Homo sapiens: one gene and its partners. The protein of the gene in region 1 purifies or fractionates together with the protein of each later gene. This does not show direct contact. Each region holds a gene or a part of one and is shown on either strand. Other genes may lie near its edges.

What was found.
Region 2: the proteins of SHMT1 (region 1) and CARS1 fractionate together in Homo sapiens (co-fractionation; one large-scale study listed by BioGRID). This does not show direct contact.
Region 3: the proteins of SHMT1 (region 1) and GNPDA2 fractionate together in Homo sapiens (co-fractionation; one large-scale study listed by BioGRID). This does not show direct contact.
Region 4: the proteins of SHMT1 (region 1) and ATIC fractionate together in Homo sapiens (co-fractionation; one large-scale study listed by BioGRID). This does not show direct contact.
Region 5: the proteins of SHMT1 (region 1) and FAXC purify together in Homo sapiens (co-immunoprecipitation; one large-scale study listed by IntAct). This does not show direct contact.
Region 6: the proteins of SHMT1 (region 1) and ARFIP1 fractionate together in Homo sapiens (co-fractionation; one large-scale study listed by BioGRID). This does not show direct contact.
Region 7: the proteins of SHMT1 (region 1) and NBEAL2 purify together in Homo sapiens (tandem affinity purification; one large-scale study listed by IntAct). This does not show direct contact.

The regions. Positions count from the first base shown.
Region 1 is NC_000017.11:18,353,551-18,357,050, reverse strand, and holds part of SHMT1 (serine hydroxymethyltransferase, cytosolic), read left to right. Parts: intron 1-1,050; 5' UTR 1,051-1,069; coding exon 1,070-1,165; intron 1,166-3,233; coding exon 3,234-3,379; intron 3,380-3,500. UniProt on the Homo sapiens protein: Interconversion of serine and glycine.
Region 2 is NC_000011.10:3,015,924-3,019,423, reverse strand, and holds part of CARS1 (cysteine--tRNA ligase, cytoplasmic), read left to right. Parts: intron 1-156; coding exon 157-285; intron 286-674; coding exon 675-804; intron 805-883; coding exon of another isoform or gene 884-912; coding exon 913-1,016; intron 1,017-1,469; coding exon 1,470-1,567; exon of another isoform or gene 1,568-1,568; intron 1,569-2,128; coding exon 2,129-2,318; intron 2,319-3,500. UniProt on the Homo sapiens protein: Catalyzes the ATP-dependent ligation of cysteine to tRNA(Cys).
Region 3 is NC_000004.12:44,706,057-44,709,556, forward strand, and holds part of GNPDA2 (glucosamine-6-phosphate deaminase 2), read right to left. Parts: intron 1,871-3,500; coding exon 1,696-1,870; intron 1-1,695. UniProt on the Homo sapiens protein: Catalyzes the reversible conversion of alpha-D-glucosamine 6-phosphate (GlcN-6P) into beta-D-fructose 6-phosphate (Fru-6P) and ammonium ion, a regulatory reaction step in de novo uridine diphosphate-N-acetyl-alpha-D-glucosamine (UDP-GlcNAc) biosynthesis via hexosamine pathway.
Region 4 is NC_000002.12:215,310,904-215,314,858, forward strand, and holds the start of ATIC (bifunctional purine biosynthesis protein ATIC), read left to right. Parts: upstream 1-1,155; 5' UTR 1,156-1,239; coding exon 1,240-1,258; intron 1,259-1,393; exon of another isoform or gene 1,394-1,487; intron 1,488-1,594; coding exon 1,595-1,721; intron 1,722-3,955. UniProt on the Homo sapiens protein: Bifunctional enzyme that catalyzes the last two steps of purine biosynthesis.
Region 5 is NC_000006.12:99,280,175-99,283,674, reverse strand, and holds part of FAXC (failed axon connections homolog), read left to right. Parts: intron 1-2,221; coding exon 2,222-2,511; 3' UTR 2,512-3,500. UniProt on the Homo sapiens protein: May play a role in axonal development.
Region 6 is NC_000004.12:152,786,454-152,789,953, forward strand, and holds part of ARFIP1 (arfaptin-1), read left to right. Parts: intron 1-3,500. UniProt on the Homo sapiens protein: Plays a role in controlling biogenesis of secretory granules at the trans-Golgi network. Mechanistically, binds ARF-GTP at the neck of a growing secretory granule precursor and forms a protective scaffold.
Region 7 is NC_000003.12:46,993,166-46,996,665, reverse strand, and holds part of NBEAL2 (neurobeachin-like protein 2), read right to left. Parts: intron 2,791-3,500; exon of another isoform or gene 2,751-2,790; coding exon of another isoform or gene 2,730-2,750; coding exon 2,646-2,729; intron 2,212-2,645; coding exon 2,113-2,211; intron 1,635-2,112; coding exon 1,033-1,634; intron 953-1,032; coding exon 820-952; intron 735-819; coding exon 615-734; intron 396-614; coding exon 74-395; intron 1-73. UniProt on the Homo sapiens protein: Probably involved in thrombopoiesis. Plays a role in the development or secretion of alpha-granules, that contain several growth factors important for platelet biogenesis.

The DNA of each region.
Region 1 (3,500 bases):
CTCGGCCTCCCAAAGTGCTGGGATTGCAGGCGTGAGCCACCGTGCCCGGCCGGAAAATATTCTTCATGTATAGCAGTGTTGGGTACCGCAGGAGATTTTTTAAAAAGTAGCACTCAGTCCTTACCTTCAAGGAACTTAGTTTAGTTGTGGGAGATAAGCTATATCCATGAGAAGTTTGGCTGAGAGGAGGCGGAGTTGGGCTCCCTGCAGGTGGGGAGGAGGGTCAGTTCTCATTTCTGAGGGAGATGAGCTGACGTCTGCAGTTTGGAAAGGAACCAGAAGTTCCACATGGTGGTTTTGCAATAGAACATGCTCGTGTTTACCAAGCAATTCTGAGGGAAAGGCTAAAAAAAGTGTTAGTTTATCAACTTGATAGAACTAACAGGTTTCGATGAGCTTTGATTCAATATAATGCTGCGGCCAGGCATGGTGGCTCACGCCTGTAATCCCAGCACTTTGGGAGGCCGAGGCAGGCGGATCACTTGAGAGGAGTTCAAGACCAGCCTGACCAACGTGATAAAACTCCATCTCTACGAAAAATACACAAATTAGCCAGGCGTAGTGGCGCACGCCTGTAGTCCCAGCTACTCAGGAGGCTGAGGCAGGAGAATCACTTGAACCCAGGAGGCGGAGGTTGCAGTGAGCCAAGATCACGCCATTGCCTGGGTGACAGAGTGAGAGTCTTGTCTCAAAAAAATAAAAATAAATAGGTGGGGCGCGGTGGCTGACACCTGTAATCCCAGCACTTTGGGAAGCCAACGTGGGCGGATGACAAGGTCAGGAGATTGAGACCATCCTGGCTAACACAGTGAAACCTCGTCTCTACTAAAAATACAAAAAATTAGCCGGGCATGGTGGCATGCGCCTGTAGTCAGAAGATTGAGGCAGGAGAATCTCTTGAACCTGGGAGACGGAGGTTGCAGTGAGCCGAGATCATGCCACTGCACTCTAGCCTGGGCAACAAAGACTACATCTCAAAAATAAATAAAAAATAAATAAAATAAATAAATTTAATTCTGGAAGCTACACATGTTTTTCCCATTTTTTTAGGCAGCTTCGAACCAGTGCAATGACGATGCCAGTCAACGGGGCCCACAAGGATGCTGACCTGTGGTCCTCACATGACAAGATGCTGGCACAACCCCTCAAAGACAGTGATGTTGAGGTGAGATTTTTGGGGTCTTCACAGATTTTTTTATGTTGGAGGCCTTCATTTAATCTTTAGTTCTAATTACAAATTAATTAGGGACAGCCTTGAAATGAGTATTATCCTGCTGGATTTAGAGGTGGTGGCAGACAAAATGGCTACAAATCCTTTGAGGGTAAATTTAAAGATTGCTGGGTTTCTTCAAAGTGTGGAGCACTGTGCAGGGTGCTCTGGAGAAAAGCGAGAAGGGGAGAGATCACTGACAGTTGACCCTTTCCTGACAGTTCACAGGGAATATAGATCTATCTAGACATCTGAAAGCACCTTTATTTTATTTTATTTTACTTGTTTATTTATTTTTTTGAGACAGAGTTTCACTCTTGTTGCCCAGGCTGGAGTGCAATGGCGTGATCTTGGCTCACTGCAACCTCCACCTCCTGGGTTCAAGGGATTCTCCAGCCTCAGCCTCCTGACTAGCTGGGATTGCAGGCACCCACCACCATGCCCGGCTAATTTTTTTTTTTTTTTTTTTTTGAGACAGAGTCTTGCTCTGTCGCCCAGGCTGGAGTGCAGTGGCGTGATCTCAGCTCACTGCAAGTTCCACCTCCTGGGTTCATGCCATTCTCCTGCCTCAGCCTCCTGAGTAGCTGGGACTACAGGTGCCTGCCACCACACCCGGCTAATTTTTTGTATTTTTTAGTAGAGGTGGGGTTTCACCATGTTAGCCAGGATGGTCTCGATCTCCTGACCTCGTGATCCGCCCACCTCAGCCTCCCAAAGTGCTGGGATTACAGGCGTGAGCCACCGCACCCGGCCTTTTTTTTTTTTTTTTTTTTTTTTTTTTTTTTTTTTTGAGATATAGTCTTGCTCTGTTGCTCAGGCTGGAGTGCAGTGACGCGATCTCAGCTCACTGCAAGCTCCATCTCCCGGGTTCACGCCATTCTCCTGCCTTAGCCTCCCGAGTAGCTGGGACTACAGGTGCCAGCCACCACGCCCTGGCTAATTTTTTGTATTATTTTTTTTTTTTTAGTAGAGACGGGATTTCACTGTGTTAGCCAGGATGATCTTGATCTCCTGACCTCGTGATCCACCTGTCTCGGCCTCCCAAAGTGCTGGGATTACAGGCGTGAGCCACCACGCCCGGCCTAAAGCATCTTTTCTTTTAAGGAAGAAGAACAAGGAATAAGGTTCAGGGAGGGAGAAACTTGGTGAAATGTAGGAATAAAAATAACAGGATGGTGGTGTTAAAAATTAGGTGGGACACTTAAAGATAACTTTCTCTTCAATCATTTTGTTTTTCTTTTTCTGAGATGAAGTCTCGCTCTTGTTTCCCAGGCTGGAGTGCGATGGCGCGATCTCGGCTCACTGAATCCTCCACCTCCCAGGTTCAAGCGATTCTCCTGCCTCGGCCCCCCGAGTAGCTGAGATTATAGGCGCCTGCCACCACACCCATCTAAGTTTTGTTTTTTTGTTTGTTTGTTTTTGAGACAGAGTTTTGTTCTTGTCGCCCAGGCTGGAGTGCAATGGCGTGATCTCGGCTCACTGCAACCTCCGCCTCCCGGGTTCAAGTGATTCTCCTGCCTCAGCCTCCCGAGTAGCTGGGATTACAGGCATGTGCCACCATGCCCGGCTAATTTTGTATTTTTTAGTAGAGACGAGGGTTTCTCCATGTTAGTCAGGCTGGTCTCGAACCCCCGACCTCAGGTGATCTGCCCATCTCGGCCTCCCAAAGTGCTGGGATTACAGGCGTGAGCCACCACGCCCAGCCAAGTTTTGTATTTTTAGTAGAGATGGAGTTTCACCATATTGGCCAGGCTGGTCTAGAACTCCTGACCTCAGGTGATCCACCAGCCTCGGCCTCCCAAAGTGCTGGGATTACAGTCGTGAGCCACCGCACCTGGCTATCATTTTGTTTTTGTTAATTCATTGATTAGTGCTTTCTCAGATACTAAAACCTTTGAGGAGGATTCATTCTATTCCATAATGTGAAAGAGTGTCTTTTCTCTTTAGGAGGTTGTAATTTGGATCAGAGCAAAATTTTAAACTAAAATTTCCAAATATCAAGCATCTGTTTTCTTCTCATAAGGTTTACAACATCATTAAGAAGGAGAGTAACCGGCAGAGGGTTGGATTGGAGCTGATTGCCTCGGAGAATTTCGCCAGCCGAGCAGTTTTGGAGGCCCTAGGCTCTTGCTTAAATAACAAATACTCTGAGGGGTACCCGGGCCAGAGGTATGTGAATATCTTCAAAGGCCTGGTTCTGACACAGTCATAGGGAGTACTCAGTCAGCCTAGGACCTAAACAATTTGGAAATTTCAGAAAACAATAAGCTTCCCAGCTGTAGGATTTCTG
Region 2 (3,500 bases), on another chromosome or scaffold:
TCGCCCAGCCTTCCCTTAGTCTTTTCATGTGCGGGATTTAACGCTTGTTCCAATAAAGTTCAGAGGATGTAAGGGCCATCAACTTGGAGTGATAAGTGATAAAGGCCTGGACAAGCGGGTAGGCTGGTCAGTCACTGTGTGTTCGGCTTTCTCCAGGGTCGTCCGGGCTGGCATATCGAGTGCTCGGCCATGGCAGGCACCCTCCTAGGGGCTTCGATGGACATTCACGGAGGTGGGTTCGACCTCCGGTTCCCCCACCATGACAATGAGCTGGCACAGTCGGAGGTAGGTGAAAACAGAGTCCCCTTGTCAGGTGCAAGAGCACAGTGTTCATACTGCAGTGGAGGAAAAGTCAGCCCAGGCCTCAGAAGGGCCTCTCTCACTAGAACTTGACACCTTCATCGGGGCTTGTGGGTGGAATCTGAACCCTGATCATTTAGTGTGGTTTCCGCATTGACAGCCTGGCCTTTGGCAACAGACTAGCCTGGATTTGAACCAGTTGTGTTACCTGCTGGCTTATTAACCTGGGCTGTCCTTCCAAGCCCTGCCTGCACCACCTGGAAAACGCAGCTCCTGCCTGTGGACAGCACCAACAAGGCAGCAGACAGTGCAGGTGGCAGGAGGCGGCCCCAGTAACACATGACTGTTGACATCCTTTGTCTCTTTCCACGCAGGCCTACTTTGAAAACGACTGCTGGGTCAGGTACTTCCTGCACACAGGCCACCTGACCATTGCAGGCTGCAAAATGTCAAAGTCACTAAAAAACTTCATCACCATTAAAGATGCCTTGAAAAAGCACTCAGGTATACACTGGCTTCTCCCACAGACCCCCCAACCACCTTCTCATACATGTGTAATGGCTGTAGCACTCGGGAGAATAAGGGCGTTGGCTGTCTTGTGTCCCCCCACAGCACGGCAGTTGCGGCTGGCCTTCCTCATGCACTCGTGGAAGGACACCCTGGACTACTCCAGCAACACCATGGAGTCAGCGCTTCAATATGAGAAGTTCTTGAATGTGAGTCCCCAGCCCCTTCCTGGAGGTTGGTGGAGCAGCCTCCCCTGCACAGTGGGCACCTTGTGCAGTGGTGATAGGTGCACCAGCCTCCCGATGTCTCTAATGGAGACCAGCACATGGGTGGAAGCACCTCCATGCTAGTGGGTATAACAGGCTCGGGGCCACTCCTGAAATGGCTGACGGCTCAGCAGAGTGGACAGAGGCCTCGTCCTCCTAGTCACTGCAGTGCACGTCCTTCTGACTTGTACTTTCCACCAAATGAGCATCTGTAAACCTAAAGCAAGAGCATGTTTCTGTCAAAGAAATATCTTTTCCTTTCTTTCTGACCACTTGTGTAATTCTGGTCTTTCAGATTTTTACCAAAAATAAAATCACAGCAGTAGAAAGTTGTAACAGATATTTCAGGATGGAAAAGTTGCCTAAATGCTGTTAAACTGATTTTTCTAACTTCAGGAGTTTTTCTTAAATGTGAAAGATATCCTTCGCGCTCCTGTTGACATCACTGGTCAGTTTGAGAAGTGGGGAGAAGAAGAAGCAGAACTGAATAAGAAGTAAGGTGGTGCCATTTCTTTGGGGTTTTTGAGCATGCCCATGTTCTATGCCTAGCCTCGCATCTTGGCCACCATGTGTCCTGGACTGTCGAGGAAGGGCTGGGGACACTGTCGTACGTTGTGCAGAATTAATTCAGGATAGGCGGCTCTGCTAATGGGAGCTGCTCTGGGTGTTGAAGTGCATGGAGAATTTCTTTTTTGTTTTTTCTTTTTGAGACGGAGTTTCGCCCTTGTTGCCCAGGCTGGAGTGCAGTGGCGTGATCTCGGCTCACCACAACCTCCACCTCCCGGGTTCGAGCGATTCTCCTGCCTCAGCCTCCCGAGTAGCTGGGGTTACAGGCATGCGCCACCATACCTGGCTAATTTCAGATTTTTAGTAGAGGTGGGGGTCTCTCCATGTTTGTCAGGCTGGTCTCGAACTCCCGACCTCAGGTGATCCGCCCACCTCAGCCTCCCAAAGTGCTGGGATTATAGGCGTGAGCCACTGCGCCTGGCCACATGGGGAATTTCTATGGTGTGTTTTCAGGTCTGACTTCACATTCCTTCCTCTTTGTTGCTCAGCTTTTATGACAAGAAGACAGCAATTCACAAAGCCCTCTGTGACAATGTTGACACCCGCACCGTCATGGAAGAGATGCGGGCCTTGGTCAGTCAGTGCAACCTCTATATGGCAGCCCGGAAAGCCGTGAGGAAGAGGCCCAACCAGGCTCTGCTGGAGAACATCGCCCTGTACCTCACCCATATGCTGAAGGTAAGCCAGGCCCCAGGCAGGCGTATCCCTCAGCCTGTGTGGACACAGGAGCCAGGCCCCAGGACTGGGAGAACAGAGGCCTCTGGTGCCCCCCAGTGCTGTGCCTGGTGCCCAGCACCTCTGAGACGTGGAGATATGCTTCTGTCCTCTTTGGTTCCTGGTGTGCTTTTCACGCGTTAGAAATAACACCCATAAGCGGAGCACAGTGGCTCACATCTATAATCCAACACTGTGGGAGGCCAGGTGAGTGTATCACCTGAGCCCAGGAGTTCAAAACCAGCCTGGACAACATAGTGAGATCCCGGGTCTATAAAATATATTAAAAATTAGCCAGGTGTGGTGGCACACACCTGTTTTCCAGCTGCTTGGGAGGCTGAGGTGAGGGGCTCGCTTGAGCCCAGGAGGTTGAATAGTGAGGTGTGATTGCACTACTGCACTCCACTCTGGGCAATAGAGGGGAGACCCTGTCTCAAAACCAGACAAAAATAAGTAACATCCATATAGTTGTCCTTACTCAGAGCTATTTCTTTCCTTTGACTCCGTTTCCCTCTACTCCCATCTTGGAGTTTGAAAAGCAAAACCACGCCAGGCGCTGTGGCTCACGCCTGTAATCCCAGCACTTTGGGAGGCCAAGGCGGGCGGATCACAAGGTCAGGAGATGGAGACCATCCTGACTAACACGGTGAAACCCCGTCTCTACTAAAAAAAATACAAAAAACTAGCCAGGCATGGTGGCGGGTTCCTGTAGTTCCAGCTACTCGGGAGGCTGAGGCAGGAGAATGGCATGAACCCAGGAGGCAGAGCTTGCAGTGAGCCAAGATTGCGCCATTGCACTCCAGCCTGGGCGACAGAGTGAGATTCCATCTCAAAAAAAAAAAAAAAAGAGAAGCAAAACCAGGGACAAGGCCTCCTCTCTGAACACATCCTGTGCAGAGCCCTTCCCCGCAGTGCACCTTGAAAGGCCAGCAGGGCCTGGACTCAACTCCCCTCCCCTCTCCTCCTCTTTCCTTGTTGTTGGGCTCCAGTGGCTTCTGGCTGAAACAGAGCTGGAGAGGGTAGCTGTGAGTCAGGGCCATCCTGGAGCAATGAGGGCACCCTCAGGCTCGGGTTTCTGGGGCTCCTGGAGCTGCTGCTTCCATCTCTTTCCTGGTCTTGGGGCACCCCCTCCCGTGAACGAGGAAC
Region 3 (3,500 bases), on another chromosome or scaffold:
GCCATGTTAAATGAATCTCCTTAAAACTGGAATTAAAATTTGTGGATAGTGAGGATTCCTTGTAGTCAAGGAATCTATTATTTGGGATGAAATCTGAAGGGTTACATGGGAAAATAGAGTTAAAACTCCATCAAATGCTCTTTTATTCACAAATCAGAAATTTTTCAGTTTTTCAGTTTTTCAGTTTGATATATTTGTGGCTTGGTAAATTAGTAATTTAAATGGTAAAAATATAAATGACTAGAAATAATCTAAGTGTTAATAAGGAAATGTTTAAATAAATTATGATTTATGTACTTAACTATCCATTAAAATGCTTCCAAATATTTAGTAAAACAGGAAAATGCTCATGAAACATAAGTACAAATACAAAACTATATACAAAGCATGATCAGCATTTTGTTTAAAAATAGACTATTTTCAGTGCTTGCCAAATGTCAGTTATTTGTATAACACCTTCAAGATATTTGCCATATTCACACATATACATGAAATATGAGTTGGTTTTCTTTGCATTGAATTAAAAATTTAAGATTATATACTTTATTTCTGAGTATGAGATGCTATAAATTGTAAGACACACCATTTTATGTACCACTGAGAAAAAAATGCTACCCAGTAAGCTATGATCTGACACCAGTTTTAAGACACAGTCCAACATCAGCAAGATCAACGTGTATTAGAGCCAATCAAATATGGTAGCTTTTTTGGACCTTGTCTTAAGCAATAATATCCAAAAAATATAGCTTTGATTTATTCAGTGTATTTTCCAATAGGCATTAAAATAAATACCTAGTTACTAGAGTAAAAAAGATTAAAAGGTATAATCATGTAGCAAAAGTAGCATACATACTACATAGTGAATCACTGACCTATCTATATGATCAACTATGTAACTTTTAATATCAGCTATGTAAATACAGGTGCTTTATGAAAATTACCTGTTTGTACAGTTTGCTTACATATGTGTAATATGTGGAGCTGACTCTTAAATCAGAGAATAGGTTCTACATTGGGTATAGGCAAAATGTCCCTTGAAAATCTCTTAAAACCATTATATCAAGCATATGTGTTTTGTAATACACAGCCTGGTAGAGTAAGGTTTCTGAATTACTGAACTAGACTACAGGAAAAAGGAAAATCAACATGAAGTCTGGGCAATCAAACTCCTGCTTACTTGCAGAGTTTATTCCATACTATTTTAACATTTAGACATTATAACTTTAATATATGGGAATAAATTGGCTTAAAATTGTAAAGATTAAATTAGATAGTGGGAGATCTCTTATCCACTGATTAGGTTCTAAATTAAGGTTAGAGGGGAGTGAGGAAGAGGGATTGAGGTGGGACTAGTAAACATGAAAAGAAATCCAGAATGGACAAAGATACATTTTCTTTTGGGTTATTTGGTCTTGTATATTCAATATGAAAGTAAATTATTAAACCTTGGATTTCAAGAAAAATTGTTTACTGAAAATAGAGACTGAAGAGATTCTCTTCATGAAAAAAAAAAAAAGGTACTACTTTGAAGATACTATTATCTGAGGTGAGAACTTTCCATTACTTGAAAGAACTAGCTATGTGTTGCCACTTTTCAATAGGTCACAGTGTGAGATTTAACCCCACAGTCACAGTAAGTTTTAATTGTCACTCACAACAGATTATCTCAGTCGGCTTTTGAAATTCAGTGCTCACCTTTAAAGTATTTCACAGTTTTAACTCTTAATTCTAAAGTAGCATCTTCATCGCATACAAAAATAGTCCGGGGATGCTGCTGGAAAGCGGAAACAGTCCACATGTGATTGACTCCTTCTTCTATTGCTTTGTACAGGGCAAATGCCTTGTGTGCCCCTGTTATAAGGATCATTACCTGAAAAATTATGAACATCAATTGTTAAAACTTGTTCCAAATGAGTAAGAAGCTCTATTTTTTTTAAACGAGAACTTAAGCACCAATATTTTTTTCTGAGAGAAAGAAAAATACATAGCTCCACATAATAGTTCAAGGTATTCATTTCTACTTTTTAAGATTAACAAGCACAAAATGTTGCTTCTAGTTTAACAAAGCAAAACAATATCTTGTTATGGGTTATTAATGCAAACACTATAATACCTGTAACTTTTAACATAGTGAATGATGATGTATAAAAGAAACCTGGGACAATGAAGAAAAAGAAACAAAAGGACTGTGTTGCAAAAGCAGAGTTACAAATCTATAAATAATTTATACAATCTAGAATGATACACCAAGTTGCTGTAGTCTAGATAAGCAAAAGATACTATGTCAGAAAAGCAAAGACTCTAAAACAACAGGTAATTTGAAGAGTTATCAAGAAAAGCCTGAAGAGCATTTCACTGAACATGTGCTATTCAAAGTTGACTCAGAATAAAAACTGGATTTAAAAAAGGATTAGGGATCTACTTAAACATAGGAACTGTCTTATAAGCACATAGGAACTGTCTTATAATCACATATGACTGATATTACCCTTATAAGCTACAGAAAATCCAAGCTCTTGGTCCCCAGGCCCTAAATGCCAATGAAATAATGCAATGACATGTTGCAAATGTGAATGTGTATGTGTCGGAATCTTTTCTTTATCATGTTTAAGCTGGAAATTGATCCCATTTAACACCTCATCTACACACATATTTTTGTAATATAATCTTTAAACTTTTTTTCCTCATTACAATTGTTTTAAAAAACAATGTTAAAATTGCTGTAGTTCTAAAATATAACAAATTTTGTATTACATATTTTATAACTAGACCTAAAATGGGAGGAAATACTCTGCACTCTCCTTGAATTACCTCAACTCCTCAAAACACCACCATGAGAGAAATACTATTCTTACTCATATTTTAAAGATAAGGAAACTGAGGCATATTCTGTAACTGGCCCAAGGTTTTGGTAAGATACAAACAAGTAGTTTTTTTCTACAGTGCATATTCTTAGCGATTAACAATTACATTACATTGCCTCTTGTAAAAGTTCTAACAATTAGACAATATGAGCTAAGAGTCTTTTCATTATGGATGCACACTCTAAAAAGGTAATGGGACAGGTGGCAAGAAATCTCAACATGAAGTATATATACTGAGGAAAAAAAAGACAACTAAACTTTTATTGGTGAGAAAAGGTAAGTACATACCTGGCATTACCATTATGAAGGGAGTGGAGGGAAAGGAGGCTGCTGGAAGGGAAGCTTAGTATAGGATGAAGAATTCATTATTGGTGTTTATCTATGGCTAAGGCATAGATAAAACAAATTGGTCTTTAAATAGACTTGATCTGATATGTGATTAGTTATATCATACCTGTTCTACTCTCAAGGAGATTATTTCTCATATCATGGGAAAGGACAAACTATATGGAATAATTTGTTATGTTTGTTCAAACTGCAGAATCCCTAAATTTAAAGAAGCAAGCTAGGTGTGGATACCAGGTGATTCTTATGTACACTAATGTTTGACAACCAGTGCTCAGGCAGATGTTGCAT
Region 4 (3,955 bases), on another chromosome or scaffold:
AAATCATTGGTCCTTGGTTTTATTTTTTAAGCCTATTAAAAAGGAGGATGGGGCCGGGCACGGTGGCTCACACCTGTAATCCCAGCACTTTGGGAGGCTGAGGTGGACAGATCATTTGAGGTCAGGAGTTGAAGACCGGCCTGGCCAACACCGTGAAACCCCATCTCTACTAAATATACAAAAAAAAAAAAAAAAAAGTACAACAACAACAAAAAATTAGACGGGTGTGGAGGCAGAGGCAGGAGAATTTCTTGAACCTGGGAGGCAGAGGTTGCAGTGAGCTGAGATGGTGCCACTGCTCTCCAGTCTGGGAGACAGAGCGAGACCCTGTCTCAAAACAAACAAGCAAACAAGCAAGCAAGCAAACAAACAAAAAACAAGTTGGGCATGGTGGCTCACCCCTGTAATCCCAGCACTTTGGGAAGCCGAGGCAGGCGGATCACCTGAGGTCAGGAGTTTGAGACCAGCTTGGCCAACATGGCGAAACCCCATGTCTACTAAAAATACAAAAATTAGCCGGGCATCGTGGCGCCTGCCTATAATTCCAGCTACTCGGGAGGCTGAGGCAGGATAAACTCTTGAACCCGGGATGTGGAGGTTGCAGGTTGCACGTGACATAGCCGAGATCGCGCCATTGCACTCCAGCCTGGGCAACAAAAGCGAAACTCCATCTCAAAAAAAAAAAAAAAAAACAAAAAAAACAAAAAAACCCAGAAAAACAAAAAAACAACAAACAAAAAGGGAGGATGGTAGATAACTGTCCAGATACTTTCCAGCTTTGCCGCTATATGAACTATTCCTTTTGTTTAGTTTTCAGCATGGGAGCTTCTGGCACTTTTACGTACTTTCCAGCTTCTGGGGACCGGCTGCCTAGAATAACAGGCATTTGCCCCAGAGGCCGTGGAGTGGCCTCACTTTGGGGTCGTGGGCAGATCGCTGGCTCCCACGCCTGGACTTCGGGATCGCAGGCAGGATCCCTTCCAGCCCAAGCACTCCGCCCAGGCGCGCCAGGCAGAGCCCCACCCCATCCCGCCGTTCCCTTCAGCCCCGGGGCGCGGATCTTGCATCTGAAACTGAGCAGAGCAGGGCGCCGGGCAGGGCCGGCGGGCCACGTGATAAGCCCGGAAACAGCTCCGCCCCCTCGCTTCCTGAGCCGCCACATCCCGGCAGCCCTCCTACCTGCGCACGTGGTGCCGCCGCTGCTGCCTCCCGCTCGCCCTGAACCCAGTGCCTGCAGCCATGGCTCCCGGCCAGCTCGGTGAGGCCCTAGCGGAGCGGCGCGGTCTGCGTCCTCGCCTGCGGCCCCCCACGCTCCCGCCTTGGCGGCGGCCGGCGGGACCCGGCACTGCAGGGGCGGCGCTGCGGGATTGAAAGCCAGCGTCCCCGCTCCCCGGCCGGGCCGCAGCCTGCGTGGGGCCCGCCTTAGAGCAGCTCGCGGGTGTAAGACCTGGGGAGGCCCGGACCAGGCCTGCGAACGCAGGGTCCAGGTGCTGGCCTTGCGATTCGAGAATCTCCTCCCCCAGACCCTCCCAAGGCCTTGCAGAACACAGTGCAATGTGCTGCGAATCATGAGAAAAAATGTCTTCTCTTTCAGCCTTATTTAGTGTCTCTGACAAAACCGGCCTTGTGGAATTTGCAAGAAACCTGACCGCTCTTGGTTTGAATCTGGTCGCTTCCGGAGGGACTGCAAAAGCTCTCAGGGATGCTGGTCTGGCAGTCAGGTAAGGCATAGCTAGTTCCATCAGAAAGGAGTGTGATCACATTAACCAGGAAGTATTGTATTCCAGGCACCAGCAGCAAAACGCCTTATTTACTCCTCCCAGTAGCGCTGTGAGGTTGGTGTAATACTTCCCCACTTTATGGGGAAAAAAAGTGAGGCTCAGAGAGATTTAGCAACTTTTAAGACCCTGGACGGCTGGGCTAGGTGGCTCACGCATGTAATCCCAGCACTTTGGGAGGCCGAGGTGGGCTGATCACTTACGGTCAAGAGTTCGAGACCAGCCTGGCCAACATGGTGAAACCCGTCTCTACTAAAAATACAAAAATTAGCCGGTATGGTGGCACACGCCTGTAATCCCAGCTACTGGGAAGGCTGAGGCAGGAGAATCGCTTGAACCTAGGAGGCGGAGGTTGTGGTGAGCCGAGATGGCACTACTGCACTCCATCCTGGGTGACAGAGAAAGACCCTGGACAACACACTGGACAGATTTAGCATCTTCTGCACAAGTTTAAACAGTTGAGTAAGGGAAAAGTAGGATTGGAACCCGTGCTGTTCCTGATTTTAGGACACTAGTCTTAGCCCCTTCCTTAAACAGATTAACTTAGGTGGGCCACTTGTTATGCAAGGAAAACTTCAGTTACTTTGACTGGTGATTTAATAAAACTCGACATCATGAAGATTCCAATTTACCTGCCTTCCCTTAGAATCTCTGGTAACCATATGAAGGTGCAAATCATTCATTCCCACGTTCACAAGCCCTTCATTAGCTGACTAGGCCATGGAAAGAAGGGACTTAGAAATGATTAACCAGGATGCCATTGCTGATGTCAAGGAGTGGCATTCTGGGAGGAGAGGGAGGAAGTCTACTGAAAGGTAGAAAAATGAAAAAAACTATAGGATAGCTATTTAATAAACGGCAGTGAGAGTTGGGAGGAACGAGATGACCACCCCTGAAACATATTTTAGAATGAAAGAGATGAAGGATATCTGTCTGCTTTTTGTTGCCATGTGGAAAATTTGCTTCTTGGTTTCTAGATCCATGTAGAGGTAGGTTATTACCTTTTCTTTGTGCAGTTCCCAGCTATGTGAGCAGTACACAGCTTCCCTAAGTTTAACAAGTTCAGATGGTAAGAATGCCTTACTTTATTAACAAATACATAACTGTATATTTTCGGATGTCTTTTTGCGTCTTGTCTCTGTGGTTTTCATGGGAAACCTGTGAGAATCGTGGCAGGCAAGTTGGCTCTTTGCTCATCAGCAACCGAATGAGAATTCAAAGTCCAGACCTGCGTGCTTTCCATTGGGCCAAGTTGGGTCCTCCTATGGTAATGGAACCTTCGTAAAGCAAAATCCTCATCTGTAGTCTCTTTTTTTTCCCCACCAAACTTTGTATTATGGAAACATTTCAGACACAATCAAAAGTAGAAAAGTATAATGATCCCTTGGGTCCTATATCTGTCACCCACTTTAGGTACTTATCAACTGATTAGTCTTGTTTCTGTACCTATACCCACTCCTCACTTATCTTCATTATGGTCATATCTTCTTTAAAAACTGGAAATGTAAATGTGTTTCTCTTCTATGAAAGGATAAGAAGTTCACCATGAGTGATTTATTTAGACCCCAGCACAGTAAAGTTCACTGAATGAAATGTAAACAACTTGGAGCAATTGTTTTTTCTTCAACAAAGGCCACATTCAGTTGCAGTGGTATTTTATTCAGTTGCAGTGGTATTTTACATATATAAACTCTTATAGTCCTTATAACAACTTTTTAGTTTAGGTAGTGTTATCCTCATTTTATAGGTGAGGAAATTAAGCACAACGTAGTTAAGTAACTCGCTCGAGATTACACAGCTAGTTAAGAGGCCAAGATTTTTTTTTTTTTTCTCTGAGATAGAGTTTCACTCTTGTTGCTCAGGCTGGAGTGCAATGGCACTGTCTCAGCTCACTGCAACCTCTGCCTCCCAGGTTCAAACGATTCTCCTGCCTCAGCCTCCCAAGTAGCTAGGATTACAGGCGCCCGCCACCACGCCTGGCTAATTTTTTTGTATTTTTGGTAGAGACAGAGTTTCACCATGTTGGCCAGGCTGATCTCGAACTCCTGACCTCAAGTGATCGCCCGCCTTGGCCTGCTGGGATTACAGGTGTGAGCCACCGCACCCGAGGCCAAGATTTTGTAGGGGTGGAAAGGTGTGATCCTTTGCTCTCCATCGTAAACGTCACGGCCAATATT
Region 5 (3,500 bases), on another chromosome or scaffold:
TGACTGTCCCCATAAGGGAGAAAGTAAGTGAAGGTTTTCCATGCTGCATCTCCTCAAAAGGAGCAATGGTGTTGACTTCTCAGTTTCTGGCTCCTGAGCATGTGCACAGATATCTTCTAGAAGAGAATAGATTTTTACATAGTGGGGGTTGAGCTGTTATAATTTGAGAAGACTGGAAATGGTGACCTGGAGCCAGTACATGTCCATGGGATCCATGAAGCAGGGGGATTTGCTTTGTTATGTTTTGCAGGGGATGTAAGTAAAACAGCAATCAAGTTTTGAAAAATTTTAACATGAGAAAATGTTTACAATAATGTTACAGGAGATAATATGTAATAATAATGGCAATAGGTAAATAGAAAAAATACTGAAAGAAGTTACACCAAAATGTTAATTGTGATTATCTTGGATCGATGAAATCATGGGTACTTTTTGTTTTCTTCTTTATGTATTTGTACAGTTTGTCTATACAGACTAATTCTAATTTTCCAAAATGAGAATATGTTATTTTCCTTAACAGAAAAATAAGATAGAGTAGTGACAGACTATAATCAACAGAACCATTAATATGGAAACAACCTAAACGACCTGTGATAGGGGATTCATAAAGACAAACTGAAGCTATGGTACAGCCATATAACATAGTGTGCACTTATCACTGTGATCAGAGTGTGACATTCAAAGATTTTTATTATACGTTGTTAAGTGGAAAAACATAGGATAGGAAAAAGAATATATAGTAAATCCTATATAGCACATGTAAATATATGTAAATGTATATGTAAATATGTACCTTTCTGGAAGAACATAAATGAAAATGTTATGGGGAATGCGATTATTGGTAATGCTTTTATTTTTTGCTTATCTGTTTTTTCTAATTTTCTGCACTAAAACATGGATTGTTTACACAATAAGTGAATGTTTATATAACTCAAATCCAAAGACATTCTTAGAGTAATAATGTCCTATAAGAGATAGTAGCAAATCATATATTTATAAGCAATGTTGCCATCTGCTGGATCACAGGGAGAAACTCACCCTCTTTCTTTTTCATTTGGAATTAGGAAATGAAGGCCAGGTAGAGTGGCATGTTTCAGACAAATGCCTAGACAGTAATAGTGACTTAACACAAGAGTTCTTTTGATTCACATAAAAAAGAAGTAATCTAGTGACCGAGTGGGACCCGGATCCTGAGTACCGCTGTTCAATTTCATGTAAAAATTTAAAAATATCTTATACTAAGTGTGTTTGCAGGCACACTTATCCATAAAGACAATTCTGAGTTATCCATTTTATGGATTTTTTGGGGGGAAAGGTTTATGTCCTAACATAACTTTTTTCAGCTGCTTGGCATGGTACTCAGCCCACAGCAACACTGCGAAAATTTGTGGAGTAAATGATTACTTCTGGCTGACTTAATGCAACCAACAGTTTGACGTATTTTTATGGAATATAAATTAATTTATATATGAACCAATCACAGCATTAGCTCTCTTGATATGTAAACATAAAATAATAAAATGCTTCCTAAAGCCAAATGATGGTAGTTTATCTGCCATTTTGGATAAACTACCTTGCCACTTCTCATCATCATCGGACTCACTTCTTCATTTCATTCAGCACACTCACTGAATGTAACTTTTCTCACTCACCGTTTTTATTATGTGCATAAAAACCTAAATATTTTCACAGTATCTCTATGGAAAAATACTGTTAATGTTTACCTTCCCCGTTATTCCAGTTTCCCAGAAAGCCTAGTGGCTGGATGTCATAGTTTGGGCCGCTGTTGCAAAATGCCATAAACTTGTTTGCTGGTAAACAAGAGGAATGTATTTCTCACAGTTGTGGAGTCTGGAAAAGTCTGGGAAATGCAGGATCATGGTGGGAAATGCAGGATCACGACTCTGGCCCATTCAGGATCTGGCGAGGGCCTGCCTGGGGGAGGGACCACTTCCTGCTTCCTGGACACAGTGCTGTCTTGCTGTGTCCTCACATGGTAAAAGGGGGAAGGCAGCTCTCTCAGGCCTCTGTTATGAGGTACTAGTACCACGAATGAGGGCTTGGGCCTCATGAACGAACCACCTCTTAAAGGCCCCACCTCCTTAGACCATCACATTGGGAGTCAGGATTTCAACATTGGAGTTTTGGGGCAACACAGACCATAGAAGTGGTAGACTGCTGCCTTTGAGAACTAATCCTTGCTTTCCTTACCACACTGCAGGTGAGCTGATCAACCTTGCCATGTACTGTGAGAGGATAAGGAGGAAATTTTGGCCAGAGTGGCACCACGATGATGACAATACCATCTATGAGTCTGAGGAGAGCAGCGAAGGCAGCAAAACCCACACCCCGCTGCTGGATTTTAGCTTTTACTCAAGGACAGAGACCTTTGAAGATGAGGGAGCAGAAAACAGTTTTTCCAGAACCCCAGACACAGATTTTACTGGACACTCACTCTTTGATTCGGATGTGGACATGGATGACTATACAGACCACGAACAGTGCAAGTGACGTCCAGCCTCACTGACCCTCTTCCTTGGGACCTGCCACTCCCTGGGTCGGTCCATTTTCCCAGGTAGCAATCCATCCGAGCTGGGAGGAGATCTTCGTGCTTGGCAGAGTTTTCACATGCTAACTGGACTATAGCAGCCTTATTTCTTTTTTGTACAAACAAAACACAGAACCATTCAGATGACTCCATTGAAAACAAACAGGCAAAAAATAATGTCAGCATGGTTCCTGAAATCCATTTTTGTTTTCATTAGAAAACTATTAATAATATTGTGTGGTAGAGCAGGTGTAAGAGCTGGTTGTCAGCTGATAGTTTTTATGATGATCCTCTTCAACCCTGAGGTCTTAATTGTGAGATGGATTCTTGAACCTCCTTCCTCCACCAGGATTTGAAGTAATGAGAGATATCATCAGAAAAATGTTTTACGGTGGCTGCTTGTACTTTATGTGTGTATATTGTATGTTGAGACATAAGTCAAATAAAATCCACAGATATTAAACGAACACCTACTATGTGCAAAGCACTGTGCTAGGTGCTAATCAGTATACATTTTATTCTAAGCCCTGCCAGTGACTAGCTGTGTGATTTTGAGCAAATCTCTTATTAACTATTGGGTGCCTCATTTCTCCCACCTGTAAAGTGGGGATGACAATACTCTCCACCTACCTACCTCACAGGGGTGTTGTGGGGATTCATGTGGTAACATTCGTACGGCGCTTTAAACCTCTTAGAAGTGGTGCGACATAAACACAGCATTTTATTCTTTATTGCACTTCATGCATGTGAAGATTTGAGGGCAAAGGAATTCCATATCCAGGCAACCACCACCACAGTCACCTGCAAAAGCTGAGCAGATGAAATACACACAAAGGTACACTTAGGACTTTGTCATGATTCCTTTCTGTAATCTTGGCTGAATCAAAATCTTTTGTTCAAAGAACATTGGAAATGTTTTTACAAATTATCGACAGCTACAAACAGTCTTCAA
Region 6 (3,500 bases), on another chromosome or scaffold:
CTGATAGATCCAATGATTGAACAAGTTTTTAAAGTCTTACTTTCTACATGACTCTTGAATTTTTCTATTTCTTCCTGTTTCCACTACTGCCACTTCATCTTGCCTGAAACTTTTACAATAGCCTCCATTCTTATCTGTCCTCTCTAATTCATTACCCATCTTGAAGGCACAGTGATTTATTTTGAAACACACATTGGATTATCACTCTCCTTCTTCCTCCCCCAGTGCTTTTATGGCTTTCCATTGCTTCTAGGATCAAAATAAAACTGCTTAACAGCCTTTAGCTCTCCAGACTCATCTTGTACCATGTTCTGCATAACTCTCCAGTTCAACCATGCTGGCCTTCTTTAGTCCTTTGTATGCACCTTGCTCCCTGCCATTTTTGCAAGGCTTTTGTACATGCTTTTCTCTCTGTCTGGACCATTCTTTCTTTACTTTCATTTCATTTCACTTGTTAGTTCCTAGTCATCCTTCACACCTCAGCTGAAGTTTTGCATCCTTAGAGAATATGCTCACTTCCCACATTAAGGTAATAGCATCATACATTTCCCGCAGTTTGCAATTTACATTTATTCATGTGACTGTAAGATTTTCTTTCTGTTCAGTGGCCTATAAACTTCATGAAGGTAAGGTCCATATCTTGTTTTCTTTTTTGGCTCATTTTTGAATCCCTAGAACCTAGCTCAGTACCTGACACCTAAATTTGACTCATTAAATTTCCAAGTTAATGGTATTAAGGATTTCAGTTCATCGAGTTTTGTAATACAAGAATTTGAATATGAATTTTTATAAAAATAGTGTTAAAATGGTAGTACAGTTTGAACATTCCTAATCCAAAAACTTGAAATCCAAAATGCTGCAAAATTCAAAACTTTTTTGAGCCCAACATGATGCTACAAGTACATAATTCTACACCCAACTTTATGTGATGAATCAAAGTCAGAATGCAGGTGTACAACAGTTTCTCCAAGAGAAAAAAGACCTGCCTAGCCCCCTTCAGCTGCCATATATCTTTTCCTCACACAGCCAGATGCACCTACGCAAGCATGCCCGCAAAGGGCAATACAATGCCATGTGTATGTGTAAGAAATGATTGGTTATACGTAGCATATAAATTCAGAGACGGGAATGATAGTGATGTCAAACAACCACAGACTGTCCACATGAGTGGCTGAGATAGTGACACCTTTGCTTTTGGATGGTACAGTGTATACAAACTTTGTTTCATGCAAAAAATTATTAAAAGTATTATATAAAATTACCTTCAAGCTATGTGTATAAGGTGTATATGAAATGTAAATGAATTTTGTGTTTACACTTGGGTCCCTTCCTGAAGATACCTCATTATGCATATGGAAATATTCCAAATGCCAAAAAAATCTGAAATCCAAAACATTTCTAGTCTCAAACATTTTGGAAAAGGGATAATCAACCTGTAATTAAATTTTCAGTTTGACTATTTCTTTCAAGTGTATGGAAATAAATTATTAGGCCGGGCACAGTGGCTCACGCCTGTAATCCCAGCACTTTGGGTGGCCGAGGTGGGTGGATCACTTGAGGTTGGGAGTTCAAGACCAGCCTGGCCAACATGGTGAAACCCTGTCTCTACTAAAAAATATACATATACAGATTAGCTGGGCGTGGTGACCTGCACCTGTAATTCCAGCTACTTGGGAGGTTGAGGTGGAAGATCGTTTGAACCTGGGAGGCAGAGGTTGCAGTGAGCCGAGATCGTGCCTCTGCACTCCAGCCTGGGCGACAGCAAGACTCCGTCTCAAAACAAAAAATGTGTTATTAGTAGCTATATAAAATATAGCAATATAGCACAGTATTCTTACACTATTTTGTAATAGACCCTTTTATTTTTGGATGGTTTTAGTTTTACAGAATTACTGTGAAGATAGAATAGAGCTTCCCATACCCACTTTCCCCTATTATAAGATAGGCTGTGCACAGTGGCTCATGCCAGTAATCCTAGCACTTTGGGAGGTCAAGGCAGGTGGATTGCTTCAGCTCAGGAGTTCAAGACCAGCCTGGGCAACATGGTGAAACCCCATCTCTACCAAAAATACAAAAAATTAGCTGGGCATGGTGGTGCCCATCTGTGATCTCAGCTACTTGGGAGGCTGAGGTGGGAGGATTACTTGAGCCCAGGAGGCGGAGGTTGCAGTGAGCAGAGATTATGCCACGGTACTCCATCCTGGATGACAGAGCGAGACTCCATCTCAAAAAAACAAAAACAAAAACATACTACATTAGCATAGTACATTTGTCACAATTAACCAATATTGGCACGTAATTATTAAAGTCCATATTTTATTCAGATTACCTCACTTTTCCCCAATGTCTTTTTTTTTTTTTTTTTTTTCTGTTCAAGGATCCCATCTAGGATAGCATATTACCTTTAGTGGTCATGTATCCTTTCATTTTGACAGTTTCTCAGATTTCCTTGTTTTTGATGACAAGTTGATAGTTTTGAAGATTACTGCCTGGTCAGGTATTTTGTAGACTGTCCCTCAGTTGGGACTTGTCTGCTGTTTTTCTCATTAGACTGGGTGATATGTTTCTAGGAGGAAGATCACAGAAGTAAAGTGCCATTCCCATCACATCATATCAAGAATACAGACTTTTTTTTTTTTTTTTTTTTTTTTTTTTGAGGTAGAGTCTCACTCTGTTGCCCAGGCTGGAGTGCAGTAACGCAATCTCGGCTCACTGCAACCTCCACCTCCTGGGTTCAAGCGATTTTCCTGTCTCAGCCTCCCAAGTAGCTGGGTCTACAGGTACATGCCACCATGCCCGGCTAATTTTTGTATTTTTAGTAGAGAGAGGTTTCACCATGTTGGCCAGGCTGGTCTTGAACTCCTGACCTCAGGTGATCCACACACCTCAGCCTCCCAAAGTGTTGGGATTACAGGCGTGAGCCACTGTACCTGGCCAAGAATACAAACTATTAATATGACAGTACCATTGATATTAACCTTGACTACTTGGCTTGAGATAATGTTCATCAGTTTTGTCCACTGTAAAGTTACTCTGTTTTCCCCCTCCTTTTGTATATTGTACTTTTTAGAAGAAAGTCTCTCTGTGAAGCACACAATTGGGAATTGGGGAATTATGCTTTACCTCTTTAAGGGTGAAGTGTCTACATAAATTTTTGAAAAATCTTCTATAAGAGTTTTTTGTCTATTCTCCCCTTTCAGTCGTTTATTTATATCAGTCTGACTCATGGATATTTATTTTATACTTAAGGGTAAATCCAGTAGTACTTTATTACTTTGTTGCTCAAATTGTTTCAGCTGTGGCCACTGGGAGCTCTTTTAGTTGGTTCCTGTATTCCTTTGACATACTCCTGTCATTGTGAGACTTTTGTTCTTGTTTTGTTTGTTTGTTTGTTTTTGAGCACTTTTAACTTTCTGGTATTACAAAATGCTCTAGGCTCACCTTGTGTATTACCTACCACAGGCCTAGAATCAGCCTTTTCTCCAAGGAGCACTGATTCC
Region 7 (3,500 bases), on another chromosome or scaffold:
CAGAGATGCCTTCTCCCCCCGGACCCCTAGCTTCTGGCCTGGGGCTGTGGCAGAGATGGAGAATGCTGCATACCCAGGGTGCACAGGGTCCTCAGAGCCGTCGCCTGCAGGGCTTCGTGAAAGATGGCCACAGCCCCCAGCTCACCCTCCAGGGATGTGGGGCTGCCCCACCGAGTGTCCTGGGTGCCTGCGAGGGTAGAGTCGATGCTGCCCTCCTGCAGGGGGGCCACCAGCCCGGACCCCCAGCCAAGCCCTGTGGAGGCTGGGACTGACTGGGAGCGGGTGAGGGCGGGGTGAGTGTAGGCCAGGGTGGCGGGGACTGGTGGTGTGGGCAGCCCTGTGGTGGTGGTCGTTGTGCGGTATCCAGCGGAGCCGATACAGCAGGAGGAGAAAGGCTGTGGGGCCGGGGTTGGGGGAGCGGTCAGGTCACAGCAGAACCTGGGGCTCCGCCTACAACCAGTTCCTCACAGTGACCCCCATGGCTGCATGGACCCCAGTGGCTAAAGTCAGGCCTGTGGGGCAGCACGGGACACAAGGGCTCCAGGCTACACCTGCCCACTGTGTTCCAAGTCCTCCCATCTACCCAAGGCCTCCCCAAACCTTGCTTGGCACACCTCACTGAGGGAGGGGCAGCGAAGGGGTGCTGTCTTGACCAGATGGCCGTCTTTGTAGACATGGACCAGGTTCTGGCTGAAGGGCCGGCGCCCAGGCACATGGACGATAGCCACGCAGTGCTAGAACAGAAGCCTCACATTAGGCCATACTTGGGACTCAGCACCCCTCTCTCTACTGGGCCACATGAGAAGGATGGGGTCTCACCCAGGCAGAGTCGGCAAAGGACACTTCGGGCAAACTCATGGTCAAATACTCCTTCCGTGTGCACACAGCCACCACCAGGGTCCCGGCCGCCGTGAAGAAGGCCTCAAACCCTGAGCCGCTGCTGGTAAAGAAGCTGGGGGCAGGCAAGCCAGTTATGTCTGCTTGTTCCTGCTCACCCTGGCAGGAGGTCCCTGGCCCCTGGCAGTCACCCACCTGTACAGCTGCTTTCGCTGGAGTGGTCGGGTGGGGGCAGGGGTAGGTGCTGTATCCATAGGGTGCAGACAGAGCCAGGCATGAAAGGTGAAGCCAGGCCCTGGCCATCGCTGTACAGGGGGTACCATGATGCCCGCCATGCTGGGCGTGAGGTCAAAGTAGCGCAGAGCACGTGCAGGACCCTGGTGCCTGGCCATGCCTGATAATGTGCGGATGACAGCACCTGCGTGTCGGGCCTTTCCAGCCTCAGCTCCGCCTGGTTCCGAGTCCAATCCTGGCCGGGGGCGCAGCAGGTGACGCAGCTCCATGGGCCTTATTGATACACGGCCCAGTGCTTGTAGCAGTGCCAGCAGCTGCTCTTGGCAGCGGGCCTCCAGGGCTAGCCCTGTGCTGAGTGTCTCCAACAGGCAGCCCACCAGGCCTGCCTGCACACAGGTGGCACGGCTGGCAGGGCAGCTGTCACAGAGCCACCTGAGGCGTTGCGCTAGGAAGAGCCGCAGCTCAGCGGTGGGCAATGACGGCAGCCACTGCGCCAGCACCAGTACCGGCTGCTCGTTGCGGATTGGTGGAGGTGGGCACATGCTGTGGTCACCCTCCACAGCCTGTGGGTGGAGAGAATGACAGTCCCTGGTCAGCTGTGGCACCCTGTCAACAGTGGGACTTTCTGGCTCCATTTACTTGCCTACGGCAGCAGTCAGCAACATGATCTACTCCATCCTGCCCACAGGTTGTGTGTGAGGCTCAGGAAAGTCAGAGGGGCACAGATGACAGTCACTACTACTAAGAGTCCTTCAGCATTGTTAATCCCTCAACCTTAGTTTTCAGCCTGGGTTGGCCTAACCCCTAACTGCATGTTCCTAAGATAATCCTGGGGCTTGCTCACATGCAGTTGCTTCCAGGACCCCTACAGGGCCAGAATCCTCATTCCAGTGACACTAACAGACATGGCCAGGCTACAGGTAACAGTATGTACTGGCCGCAGTCAATACGGTCCCCCAGGGTGGAGAGCTCACCATCTGTGGTAACCCTGACTCAGTTCTGGTTGCCTTTGGGACCCTGGTCCCAAGCCCCTTCCCTCACCATGTTGAGCAGCTCTTGCAACAGCCGATGGGTGGGGGGACCATGGCTCTGCAGAACCTCCTGCAGGTGAGGGTAGCCGATGCGCTCCTTAAACACCTCCTGTGTAAGGTAGTATGGGGAAGAAGTGAACACATACATGGGCCGGAGGGCAAACTCAGACCCCCTGGAAACTCTGGAGGGGCATCATGTTTTGGGGTTCCCTTGCGTAGCTCTGCCTCTGGGTGACAGTGCTGGTGGGCAGTGGGCTGCAGAGGGATGGGGGGGACGTGAGTACATCTCAGAAGGCTGTAGATGGAGGTGGGCCTACAAGTGTCCATTCCCCATCCAGCCCTGACAGAGAAGATGCAGCTCCCAGGACAGACTGGCGACCACACCTGCCCAGTGAGCTTTAGGGCAGGGCAGTCACCTCCCAGCTCGCCTGCTTTGCTCCAGGGAGCAGGATGCTTATGGCCACCGGCCAGGCCTGTTCTGGGGATATGGTCAGTTGAACTCCACCCCGCACCCCTACTAAAGCTGCAGTGCAGCAGCCTCACCTTGGCCGAGGGGGAGTCACTCATGATGCAGGTCAGCACTCTGACTACATGGACTGCAATGGCGTCTGTGTCTTGGTCCAGGACCTTGGGGTGGGGAGGGGCCATCAGGAGAGGCAGGGGCCAGGGTGTCACAGCTGGCAGCCCCCTGCAGTAAAAAAGGTGCAGAGCCAAGCACCCCAAGGCATGTGGCATGTGCTGGATCAGCAACTCTGTCAGAGCACCAGGCCTTCTACTCCTTGCCCCAACTGCTGTGACCCTATCATGACCTAGGGCCCTCTCTGAGCAGCTCAGCAAGACCCACTCTAACAAAGGCTGGGAAGGGCCTCACTGGGACAGATTAATGGTGGACACTCTGACTGCACCCTCCAGTCCCCCTTTCTCTAGTGGAGTTAGGGCCCTACCCCCAACCTGTCTCCCTAAAGCTAGACACATGAGTACAGACAGGCCAGCAAGTGCCCCATCACCCACAGTGATTGACAGGGGTCAGAGATTTAGGGACAATCAATCACAGGATGTTAGAACCAGAAGAACCTTCGAGACCTTTAAGTCCCACCTTGCCCCTTCCCCCTAGATCCAGGTGGGGGCACTGAGGCTCAGCCTGGCTGAACCTGACAGCCAGAGGCATGCTGCTGCCTCTCCTGCCCCACCCTGAGGGGGTCAGGGGTTGGGAGGGCTTGGAGAGTTTCTCAGCAGGGACTAGGTCATATTCGGCTCCATGGGGCCTTTGGTCCCAGCTTTGCCTGACTCCCCAAGTGACCTAAGGCATCAGTCCTCCCCCTCCAGGCCTCAGTGTCCTCATCTGTAAAAACAGAGGGGAGTCACTTTGCCCTGCCTGCTTTGCAGATGAATAGACGT